Linked DNA regions of Homo sapiens. The protein of the gene in region 2 interacts with the protein of the main gene of each other region in a pairwise test. Each region holds a gene or a part of one and is shown on either strand. Other genes may lie near its edges.

Region 1 (3,653 bases), on a different chromosome or scaffold from region 2:
TCAGTGGGTCTAGAACTCTGATTTCTTGCAGAAGCTCTTGAGGTCTCACTGCTGCCTATGGGAGCACCCAAGCATCTTCTCCATCAGCCCCACCACCACCCGGTCCCAACTCCTCCCAGCTCTCCCTCCTGGCATGTCTTGTCACTCCCTGGGACATGCATTCTATCACTCTCCAGGTACTCCAGCCACCCCCTTCCCCCACTCAAGCCCCCAACCCCAGGTCCTTCAGAGGCTAACCTCCCTACCAGAGAGACTCCCCCGCACCTTCCTTCCCTACGTCCCTATACAACAGCATCTGCAGTAAGATGTAAGTCATGGCTTAATGCAGGGACCACTCCCCCTTCACGACACACAGCGCTTCATAAACAGCAAGTGACTAATAGTGACTAACCAATGGAATCACCAAAGCAAAGATGGCTATAAACAGCATAATGTATTATCTCCTCTATAGAGCAGTGTCTCCTTCTTTTTTTTTTTTTTTTTTTTTTTTTTTTGAGATGGAATCTCGCTCTGTGGCCCAGGCTGGAATGCAGTGGCACAATCTTGGCGGCTCCCTGCAACCTCTGCCTCCCGGGTTCAAGCAATTCTCCTGCCTCAGCCTCCTGAGTAGCTGGGATTACAGGCACCCGCCACCACATCCAGCTAATTTTTGTATTTTTAGTAGAGACAGGGTTTGGCCATGTTGGCCAGGCTAGTCTCAAACTCCTGGCCTCAAGTGATCCGCCCACCTTGGCCTCCCCAAGTGCGGGGATTATAGGAATGAGCCACCGTGCCCAGCCCAGAGTCTCATTTTAATAGGGAGGTTCAGGCCCTTAATCCAAAGATGGGAGTAACAAAGAGTCAATCAGCCCCCAAGGGGACCAGACAGGCTAGAAGAGCCCCTGCCATCCACACCTCACAGCATGGGGCCTGCACTACCTCAAGTCAGCTCGGGCTGATGCTCTCAGCCCCCAGGAGGTAAAGTTACACTCTGGCTGTGTCTGGCCCCAAGTAGTTCAAGGGATGCTAAACTAACAGCTTTGTTAACTGTTACCCTCCAAAAACACATAGACACACACATATTTCATATCCATCCTCTTGGGGAGGTGGAGAAAAAAGAATGCTGAAAAGTACAATTAGGCATTGTCTTTGCTCCACTCCGTGTGGCAGTATCTAAAAAATTACACCCTCTGGCAATGAAATTCTTACAAGTACTGTAAACAAACAAGTCTAAAGGCCCAGCAGTAATACAATCTGCCTTTTTAACAGAGTACACAATTATAGTTAAGATACCTTATTGAGTTCTTCAATTGCCTGTACCAGGTTGAATAATGGCCTAATCTCTGGATCATGTGACTTTATTTGGAAAAAGGGTCTTTGCAGAAGTTATTAAGTGAAGAATTCTGAGATGAGATTAGCCTAGATTACCTGGGTAGGCCCTAAATGTCCTCATAAGTGTCCTTATAAAATAGAGAAAGAAGGAGTTTTCACACAAATAAGCAGAGGGGGCAGCCACAGGAGGAAGGAGGCAGACATTGGGGTGAGGGGCGACAAGCCAAGGAATGTTGGCTGCCACTGGAAGCCAGAAGAGGCAGGGAAGGATCCTCCCCTAGAGTCTCTGGAGGGAGCGTGGCCCTGCCAATACTTTTTAAGACTTCTGGCCTCCAGAACTGTGAGAGAATCAATTTGTTACTTTAAGCCACCAGAGTGGTAATTTGTTATAGCAGCCACAAGGAACAAATAGCTTCCCTGAAAATATAAGGAATCTATCTGATGCCCTTTGGGACGCATTTCCAGGCATGGAGAGACCCTCCTTGGCAGTGGGGAATGACGCCACCTTTCACCGGCAGCCTCTCTCTCCTCCTCACTCTAGCCCTTCAGCGTAGTCTCAGGAGCCTCTGACAATTCCTCATTGACTCCACCGTCCCCTCTGCTCCCGCACGTCCATGAGACCCACGGAGAGCAGAGTCTTCACGAACTCCCTCTCAGGCTCCACTCCCAGGGCTGAACCAGCCCATATCAGGGTTTTGCACCTCCATGAGCTATGTCAAAATAGGACCCTATGAAGCTCCACAATTGGTTAGCAAGTGTCTACACTGCAGACCACTCTGAACAGAAAGGACAGCCCAGGTGGCTCTTTCCATGAATCTAGACCTCATTATCACAGCCGTACGATTACAGTCATCCTAACAATTGGTGTTGGTTCCCACATGCCAGGCTTAAGGGTGCATGCTAGGCTTTTCTTTAGGCAGTTCTTCCTGTACCTTCCAACTTCTGTGCAAATGCAGTATTTCCAAGCATTTCTCCCCACTCTCTCACTTCTTGCTCTTTCTCTAGCCCATCCTCCTCCCTTTCCTGAAGGTGAAAGGACAAGGCAATGAGGTGATCTATGGTGCTGGGGAAATACCCCCTGGAAACCCCATCCAGCCCCTCATCCTCATACCACTCATTCCAGCCCCTCCTCCTCATACCGCTCAGTCCAGCCCCTCAACCTCATACCGCTCAGTCCAGCCCCTCCTCCTCATACCGCTCAGTCCAGCCCCTCATCCTCATACCGCTCAGTCCAGCCCCTCCTCCTCATACCGCTCAGTCCAGCCCCTCATCCTCATACCGCTCAGTCCAGCCCCTCCTCCTCATACCGCTCAGTCCAGCCCCTCCTCCTCATACCGCTCAGTCCAGCCCCTCCTCCTCATACCGCTCAGTCCAGCCCCTCAACCTCATACCACTCAGTCCAGCCCAGGCCTTGGGCCGTCGTACCAAGGCCTTCCGTGAAGCAGGCCCAGTGTGGTAAGTCGAAAAATGGCCTCCCAAAGATAGGCCCACATCCTAATCCCTGGAACCTGAAAATGTCATCTTTAGGGGGATGGGACTCTGCAGACATGATGAAGTTAATGGTCTTCAGATGGGGAGGCTGTCCTGGATTAACTGGGTGAGTCCTAAATGCCATCAAAAATGTCTTTAAAAGACGGAGGGGATCAGATGGACAAGCAGAGAAGAAAGCAAAGTGAAGACGGAGACAAGAGAATAACATGGCCACAAGCCCAGGAGATGCCCATGGCAGCCACCAGGGGCTGGGAGAAGAAGCAAAGTCCAAGTCTCCCCTTAGGTCTCTGGAGGAAGCGTGGCCCTACTGACACCTTGATCTCCAATGAGACTGATTTTGGACTTCCAGCCTCCAGACTGTGAGGGAATCACTTTCTGTTGTTTTAAGCCACCAAGTTTGTGGTCATTTGTTACAGCAGCTGCAGGAAACTAACACCCCTGGTGTGTGCCCTACCATCATCTGACACCTTGATTCCCAAGTTCTGCCATCAAGGTTCCCTCCATGAAAACCCTGAGCCCTTAAGCTACCTCACCTTGGAGAAGGTTTCCTATTAAGCTCCCTCTCAATTTTCAAATACCAGCTCATTATCAGCTTGTTTTCATCCACCCCCTGACTTACAAGCTCCATACTTACAAGTTGATAATACTGAAATGGAATGCCGTTCTTGATTACACAAAACCATTTAATCGACTTCATCTATAACAACTGAAATGGGGAAAAAAAATGAATGGGAAATTAAGGAAAAGTCAATCAGTGATCAGCAAAGGGAGACATCTAATTCAATTTGACAGTAATCAGAGGTTTGCAGGCAAAACAAAGCTAACACTGACTCTAACTGGGTAAAGCCTAA
Region 2 (3,653 bases):
ATCACAGGGTAAAAATTTGAGCACATTGTGAATGCCTTTTACCTAATGCTTTTAGCATTCTTTGATAATCCTTGTCTGAGTCAATAATTTCATTAGGGGTTGCAAAATGATGAATTAAAAAATAATTCTGTTATTTCTTCTATGTTTATTAGCTGGTACTCTTCTGCAAAGAAGAGTTGGCCTTCACTGACTGTCAGTGAAATGTAGTTTCTCCTAATCCAGCAGCATAAATGCTTAATTCTCTTCCCTCATTAGCCAAATTGGTGTAATAGTCCAGTGGTGGTGTGGCAGGTGCTGTGGTTAGGCTTTCAGATCCCGCTTTCAGGCACATGTTCCCCTAGCTCTTGGCAATATTGGCAGCTAAAACTGATTGCAGCTGAGTCCCACTCCACGCATTGCCCTGAGCCAAGAGTTGCCTCCCCCAGAGTCATGCCTCCTCTTCAGGGGCAGTTTACATCTAATATCTATACAGTGTAGGGATATAAATGCCTAGCGCTTTTGCTATAAGACAAGCCAACCTTGAAGTCTATCCCAACACCAGAGAGCTCTCCCATGGGTCTGGCTGAGGGCTTCCTGGGACTGCATTGCAGATCAACTCCTTCCTCTGTTCAGTCTTACGTCTTTCACTGCCCCACAGTTGTTGGTTCGGAGGGCACTCCGCAATAAACTTCCGGTGTGCACATCTGCATTTGAGAGTCTGTTTCCTGGGAACCCTCCTACCCAAAGCAGTTGGTGCCAGGAGTGGTCTCAGAAAGTAGACTTTACAGTGAGGTTTTGAAGCTGGATTATTGGCTGGCTGGCTGGCAATGAGAATCGATTCTGGTGCTAGATGGAGCACTAATACTGATAACGCTTGGCATGCACTGTAGCTATGCAACTTAAAACTTTCACTGGTGGTGAGTTGGAATGCTATTCCTGTTGAAGGGAATGCACTGGTGAGTGCACTAGGCTTTTGAGAAGTTCAGAGAAATTAATTATGAGGACAATCATCAGATGGCTTTTGGTAAATAACATTGATAGATTGGAGAAAGATGATGCAAGGTGGAAGATAATTGGGGGCAAAATGTAAAAGGAAATTTATTTAGCATCATGTAAAGAAACACATATACAGTAAGAGGAAAAATCTAAGGCTTCAACCCAAAACTTAATTTTAAGGGTAGCAGAGCACCAAGGTAGGTAGAATTCTCTCTCAGCTATGCTAAGGTCAGTGTTCTGGTTGGGCAGGAATCCTGACCCTTAGGATGGGGCATCTGAGTGCACTTGAAAACCCTGAAACCCCAAATTCCTCTTAACCCTCTGGGCCTGCAGAAGTGGCCTTCTTCTACTAGCTAGAGGGGTTGCTTGCAGACTGTGCTGTCCCTCTTACCCCCAGCTCCTCCTCTCTCGCCTACTGACTATCACCAAACCAACAACTAGGGTTAAGTCACAAGAACACCTAGTTCGGGGTGCTGGATCTGCGAAGGGAGGAAGGGACTGTACACACAAACACACACACACACACGTTCCCAAACTGCACCAAGGCACCCCAAAGCACCACCACAGACACAAAAGAATACCATGGGATATTTCAGAATTTTAAAGGAAACACAGCAATATCTGTCACAAATTACTAGCTTGAGGTAGTTCACGGTTTTGACATTAGCTCATGCCACATTTCTTTTGATGATGTCATATTTTTGCAGGGTTGGATTTTTACTAGTTGTGATACAGATCAAGCACTGTGCAAAAATCAGTGTGGAACAGGAAAGGAGGGTGGCATGTTCAGTCTGATTCCAAGTTTGAGAAGTTGTTCTGTGTCTAACAGGCACACATGTCATATTATCAAGTAATTGAAGTTTTTGTTTGTTTGTTTGTTTTGAGGCAGAGTCTCGCTCTGTCACCCAGGCCAGAGTGCAGTGGTGCGATCTCGGCTCACTGCAACCTCCGCCTGCCAGGTTCAAGTGATTCTTCTGCCTCAGCCTCCTGAGTAGTTGGGATTACAGGCGTGTCCCACCACACTCGGCTGATTTTTGTATTTTTACTAGAGGTGGGGTTTCACCATATTGGTCAGGCTGGTCTCGAACTCCTCACCTCGTGATCCGCCTGCCTCGTTCTCCCAAAGTGCTGGGATTACAGGCGTGAGCCACTGCGCCTGGCCCAGTATTTGTAGTTTTTAAGAAGGAAATAAAAATATTTTTCTTCCAATTTATGTGTTATTTTTTCAAATGTCTACTCATTTGTTAGGACATGAATTCTTGTTATTTGGATCTAACTACTTAATAAACACTACTGTTTGGTATTTCTTTTGGCCTATGAGTGCATGGAAAAATTACCGATGATGGCTGTGCATGGGCCCAATAAAAGGGTTTTCATTCACCAGTGCTGATCTAGCAACTGCTGCTGCTGAATATCCAGCCTGACAGCAGCAGAGATCAATCATCCTTCAAGCAGGCCAACCAGTCCTTATACAGTGGAAAGGACCATGATTCATTTTGATTGGATTTGAGACATATTCTGGGTCTGAATTTGTCTTTCCAGCAGGGTCTCACCCAGGACTACTGTTTGAGGGCTTGCAGGATGTTTGATCCTCTACTACAGGGATCATTTCAGAATAAGGGACCCACTGTTATGTTATGTTATGTTATGTTATGTTATGTTATGTTATGTTATGTTATGTTATGTTATGTTATGTTTTGAGACGGAGTCTTGCTCTGTTGCCCAAGCTGGAGTGCAATGGCGTGATCTCAGCTGACTGCAACCTCCGCCTCCCGGGTTCAAGCAGTTCTCCTACCTCAGCCTCCTGAGTTGCTGGGACTACAGGTGCACATCACCACGCCCAGCTAATTTTTGTGTTTTTAGTAGAGACGGGGTTTCACCATGTGGACCAGGATGGTCTCGAACTCCTGACCTCGTGATCCGGCCACGTCAGCCTCCCAAAGTGCTGGGATTACAGGCGTGAGCCACCGCGCCCGGCCGGGACCCACTTTTATAGAATAGGAGAATCATTTGTCCCATCTTGCACCACACCGTCCAGAAGCTGATGACTTGATAGAGCAGTAAAACAGTCCTTTGATGGCACAGCTGATGATGAGATCCTGCAGCTTGGGCATGATGCCCTGCAAGGGTGAGGCGCCCATTCTCCAGTGTTCCCAGTAGGAAGATCACATGAAATTAGGAGTGGCTCCGCATAGCATCACTCTGTGAATCACCTGGGCAGTTTCTGCTTCCCATCTCCATAGCTCTGATGGCAAGGGGTTAAAAGATCCTGGTTCTCAGAAGAGAAACATTTCCAACAGAGGGCGCTATGAGAATCCTGTTATACTTTAAAGTACAGCTGCCACTAGGATTTGGGGCTCCTTTTCTAAATAAAGAAGTCACCAGGCTGGGCACGATGGCTCACGCCTGTAATCCCAGCACTTTGGGAGGCCGAGATGAGTGGATCACGTGAAGTCAGGAGTTCGAAACCAGCTCAGCCAACATGGTGAGACCCTGTTTGTACTACAAATACAAAACAATTAGCCGGGCATGTTGGCGCGTGCTTGTAATCCCAGCTAATTGGGAGGCTGAGTCAGGAGAACTGCTTGAACCTGGGATGTGGAGGTTGCAGTGAGCCGAGATTGCGCCACTGCACTCCAGCCTGGGCAATAGAGCAAGACTCCATCTCAAAACAAAAA
Region 3 (3,653 bases), on a different chromosome or scaffold from region 2:
TATCCTTAACTGCTTTTGGTCCCAGAGCACATGGGATCTTTCAAATTACCCTATACAATATTAGAATCTATAGCATAAGACCATGTTTTTAAAAGGACTAAGCAGTATTTTACATACTAGAAAATAATTTTTCTCACTTTGCCTTTGTTATATTGTTAATGGTGACGCTAAGATAGGTACGTATATACAGGGTTGAGTATTAAGGAAATAACTTGCTCTTTGGAGTCTAGTGGCCTGGATTTGAACCCTAGATCCATCACTTAGTAGCTGTGTAATGTTGGGAAGTTACTCAAACTCTCTCTGCCTCCTTTTTTCTTTATGCTGAGGAAAAAAGTATCTAACTCACAGGATGATCATGAGAATTAAGAGTTAATACATGCAAAGCATTTAGGAAATTGTCCATTGCATAATAAATTTTTTAAAATGCTTATTATTGTTAATATTATTATGTAGAAACACTTATTCCTATTACCTGTTGAGAACTTTTTCATTTTTTAAATAGAAATTAAAACCAACTAATAATTTAACTTTTACAAAAACTTTAAATAGCACATTAGTCTTTATATCATTGTATTTTACAGCGTAATTACTATTCATCAATTAACTTGTATTTCCATGTTTTATAGTTACAGGTCTGAGGAAGAGGTACAGTGACTTAACTAGGCTTACCTGATAAATACTAGGATTAGTGCTGAAATCCAAGTTCTCTTGATTGATTCTTGATTGTAGGCAGTAAATACTTTTCCTTCATAGGCCCTATTTCCCTACTTAATCAGAATGCTTATCATTTAACAGAATGCATATTTTTTATTTATTAAACATTCCATTAGGTAGATGTCGTATAATAGGTTAAAAAAAGATGGGACAGAGGCTTTATTGGTTTAGAAATTTTCCTCACTTAATTTTGACAACTATTTAAATAAAAGTGCTTGGGTAAATAGAAGTTAAATGAAATAAGCCAATAACATGTTAGTTAGGTATTTTAATCATAAGTATATGATATGAATGAATCTGTGTCCTTCACTTATCCTGTATTTATAGAACAATTATAGGTAAAGCAAGGGTGTCCTCTTACCACTTTACTATCTGAGATATAAAAGCAAGTTAATGACAGATCAGAATTTGTCGTAAGCATTTCCAAATACCATCTGAAACATTAGATGAGGCCTTTTGTTAGAGATTTTTTTGTATAGGAACTTGGCCTATAGAAACTTTTACCTTCAGAGTTCTAAAATTTCGTGCAACTTTCATACTCCGTGCTCATTTAATGTACATGGGTGGTCAAGTCTCTGGGTAGACTGAGGTAGACCCAGTACTAGTGATTTCCTTGGGCTCACATAGGTGCCATCTTTTTTTCAGGCTGCCTCTGTGCCTGTAGTTCACATTTATTATCTGTTTAGGATAGATATGCTCCTAGGTTCTCTACCAGGGTATTTTTTTATTACTATTTTATTACTCACCTTGGCAAGTATGAATAGATATTACGGCGTTTATGATTAAATTCATTTAAATCCATTAACGTAACTCCACTTTGTTGTAGATGTATTCGTGTCAATAAATTTCAGAGAGTTGATCCTGATGTCCTGAAAGCCTGTGAAAACAGCTGCATCTTGTATAGTGACCTGGGCTTGCCAAAGGAGCTCACTCTCTGGGTGGACCCATGTGAGGTGTGCTGTCGGTGAGTTCTCAAGTTTAGAGGCTGAACTGATGACCATGCTGGAACTAATTTTATGACATTCTGTCATGTACGGCCTGCCTGTGTATCTTTATGGCCAGGAGCTGGTGGTTTAACTCTCTCAGATGTAAATTTTATGAAATACTTTTCTGGAGGTGATGTTGAAGGACTAGTTAGATTTCTGCTTTATAGCCGAAAAAAGAAACTGATTAGGCGGGGGTTTTCTAGTAGTGCTTTGCCAAGAAGCTTATTGTAGACCAAGAAGTAGACACCTAGATTCCGCTAGGTGTCTATTATCTTTAATTGGTGGTGCACTTGTCTGTCTTCAAATTAAGAAGCTAATCCCAAATAATACTGGATAACCACTTTTGGTTTGTTTCTGTTTCTGTTTATTCTCCCTCTCTCCTCTTTTTTTTTGGGACGGAGTTTCACTCTTGTTGCCCAGGCTGGAGCGCAATGGTGCATTCTTGGCTGTCTGCAACCTCTGCCTGCCGGGTTCAAGTGATTCTCCTGCCTCAGCCTCCTGAGTAGCTGGAATTACAGGCGCCCACCACTGTGCCCGGCTAATTTTTTTTTATATTTGTAGTAGAGATGGGGTTTCACCATGTTGGCCAGACTGCTCTCAAACTCCTGACCTCGTGATCCGCCCGCCTTGGCCTCCCAAAGCGCTGGATTACAGGCGTGAGCCACTGCGCCCGGCCTCCTCCTTTTTGATTATGTAAGTGACTGAGTGATACTTCGTGGTTTTATTTTTATAATGGAAGTTATTTTTCACATCTCCTAATGAATAGAGTTGTGAAAGATCAGTGCTAGGTATGAAATCTTTTTGAACTCCACTTGCTCAAAAACCATTATTTGTGGACCAGGCACTCTCAGTTGTAGGGTTTTCAAAAACGAAAGCAACATTCTGCTTTTAGGTAATTCAGTTTGAAATTGAGAAGAAAAGTAAGCAAATTACATTGTTATCTGATTTATGTTAGAAATGTGTACAAAATGCAGTGGTAGGTTGCACAAAGTAGAAAGTTACTGCATCTGGTGAGGAGTCAGGAGACTACTGAGTAGGTGATACTTGAGCTGGGAGGTGAAGGATGAGCCATGGTTGACCAGGTGACAAGGTGGGAAGGATGTTCTAACTAGCAGGAAGAAGATGAACAGAGGCATGGAATTCCTGCAAGAATTTTCCTGTGGCTCTGCCTTTAGGATGTTTCTATTTGGTTTTGAGGTACAATTCACCTGACCACCTGGCCTCTTTATTGATTGTAGTAAAGTTGCTTTTTGAAGGAACCCTAACTATGTACTCCTAAGGTGGTCGCAGACTGACCTGATTCCAGCAATGAAGGTGGAGGTGAAGACAGGAGAGATGAATTACATGATTATTCTTCCATTAAATTTTGTCAGGACCACCGCTTGAGGTTACTACCTGATTTGCCAGTGGTTGGTGTAAGTTTATTGCTTTTGGAAACCAGATGTAGGTGGTAGAGGTTTGTGATAAACATTCTCCAATACTTCTTTCTCGGGTAGAAAAGGAGCAAGCTATCTCAAATTTAGGTCTGAGAAAATAAACATTTTTAGATTCTGGGACTAATTAAGGACCTGCTTTAGGCTAGTTTCAGACTTGGAAAACTTTGGCCACTGAACCTGTGCAGAAGACCTCCATTTATAAGAAATAGCTGTCAAAAAGCTACTATATTGAATTGTTTACTTTTTAATTTGACCTGCACTTAGATCCTAGTTGGCTCCTATTTAACACACAGTTAAGTTAGTTGTGTGGTTTCTTAACCCATGAAATGTGAGAAGCAGCATTTTAAAGAGGGTTGATGAGTCAGACGCTACCAAAAAATGTCATGTGGTCTGACATAGAGGCAAAAATGAAAAAGCTAAAAAATCAGCACGATTATGTTATCACACAATCAAATAGTTTACGTTCAATATAATGATCCTAAACCATCAGGGGAAAGTTTTTATGTCCAAGGATGTT

The links.
Region 1: the proteins of MYCBP2 (region 2) and HUNK interact in a two-hybrid assay, tested with the Homo sapiens proteins (one large-scale study listed by BioGRID and IntAct).
Region 3: the proteins of MYCBP2 (region 2) and BTG3 interact in a two-hybrid assay, tested with the Homo sapiens proteins (one large-scale study listed by BioGRID and IntAct).

Annotation. Positions count from the first base shown.
Region 1 is NC_000021.9:31,917,996-31,921,648, reverse strand, and holds part of HUNK (hormonally up-regulated neu tumor-associated kinase), read right to left. Parts: intron 1-3,653.
Region 2 is NC_000013.11:77,316,958-77,320,610, reverse strand, and holds part of MYCBP2 (E3 ubiquitin-protein ligase MYCBP2), read left to right. Parts: intron 1-3,653. UniProt on the Homo sapiens protein: Atypical E3 ubiquitin-protein ligase which specifically mediates ubiquitination of threonine and serine residues on target proteins, instead of ubiquitinating lysine residues.
Region 3 is NC_000021.9:17,602,885-17,606,537, reverse strand, and holds part of BTG3 (protein BTG3), read left to right. Parts: intron 1-1,540; coding exon 1,541-1,678; intron 1,679-2,261; coding exon of another isoform or gene 2,262-2,393; intron 2,394-3,653. UniProt on the Homo sapiens protein: Overexpression impairs serum-induced cell cycle progression from the G0/G1 to S phase.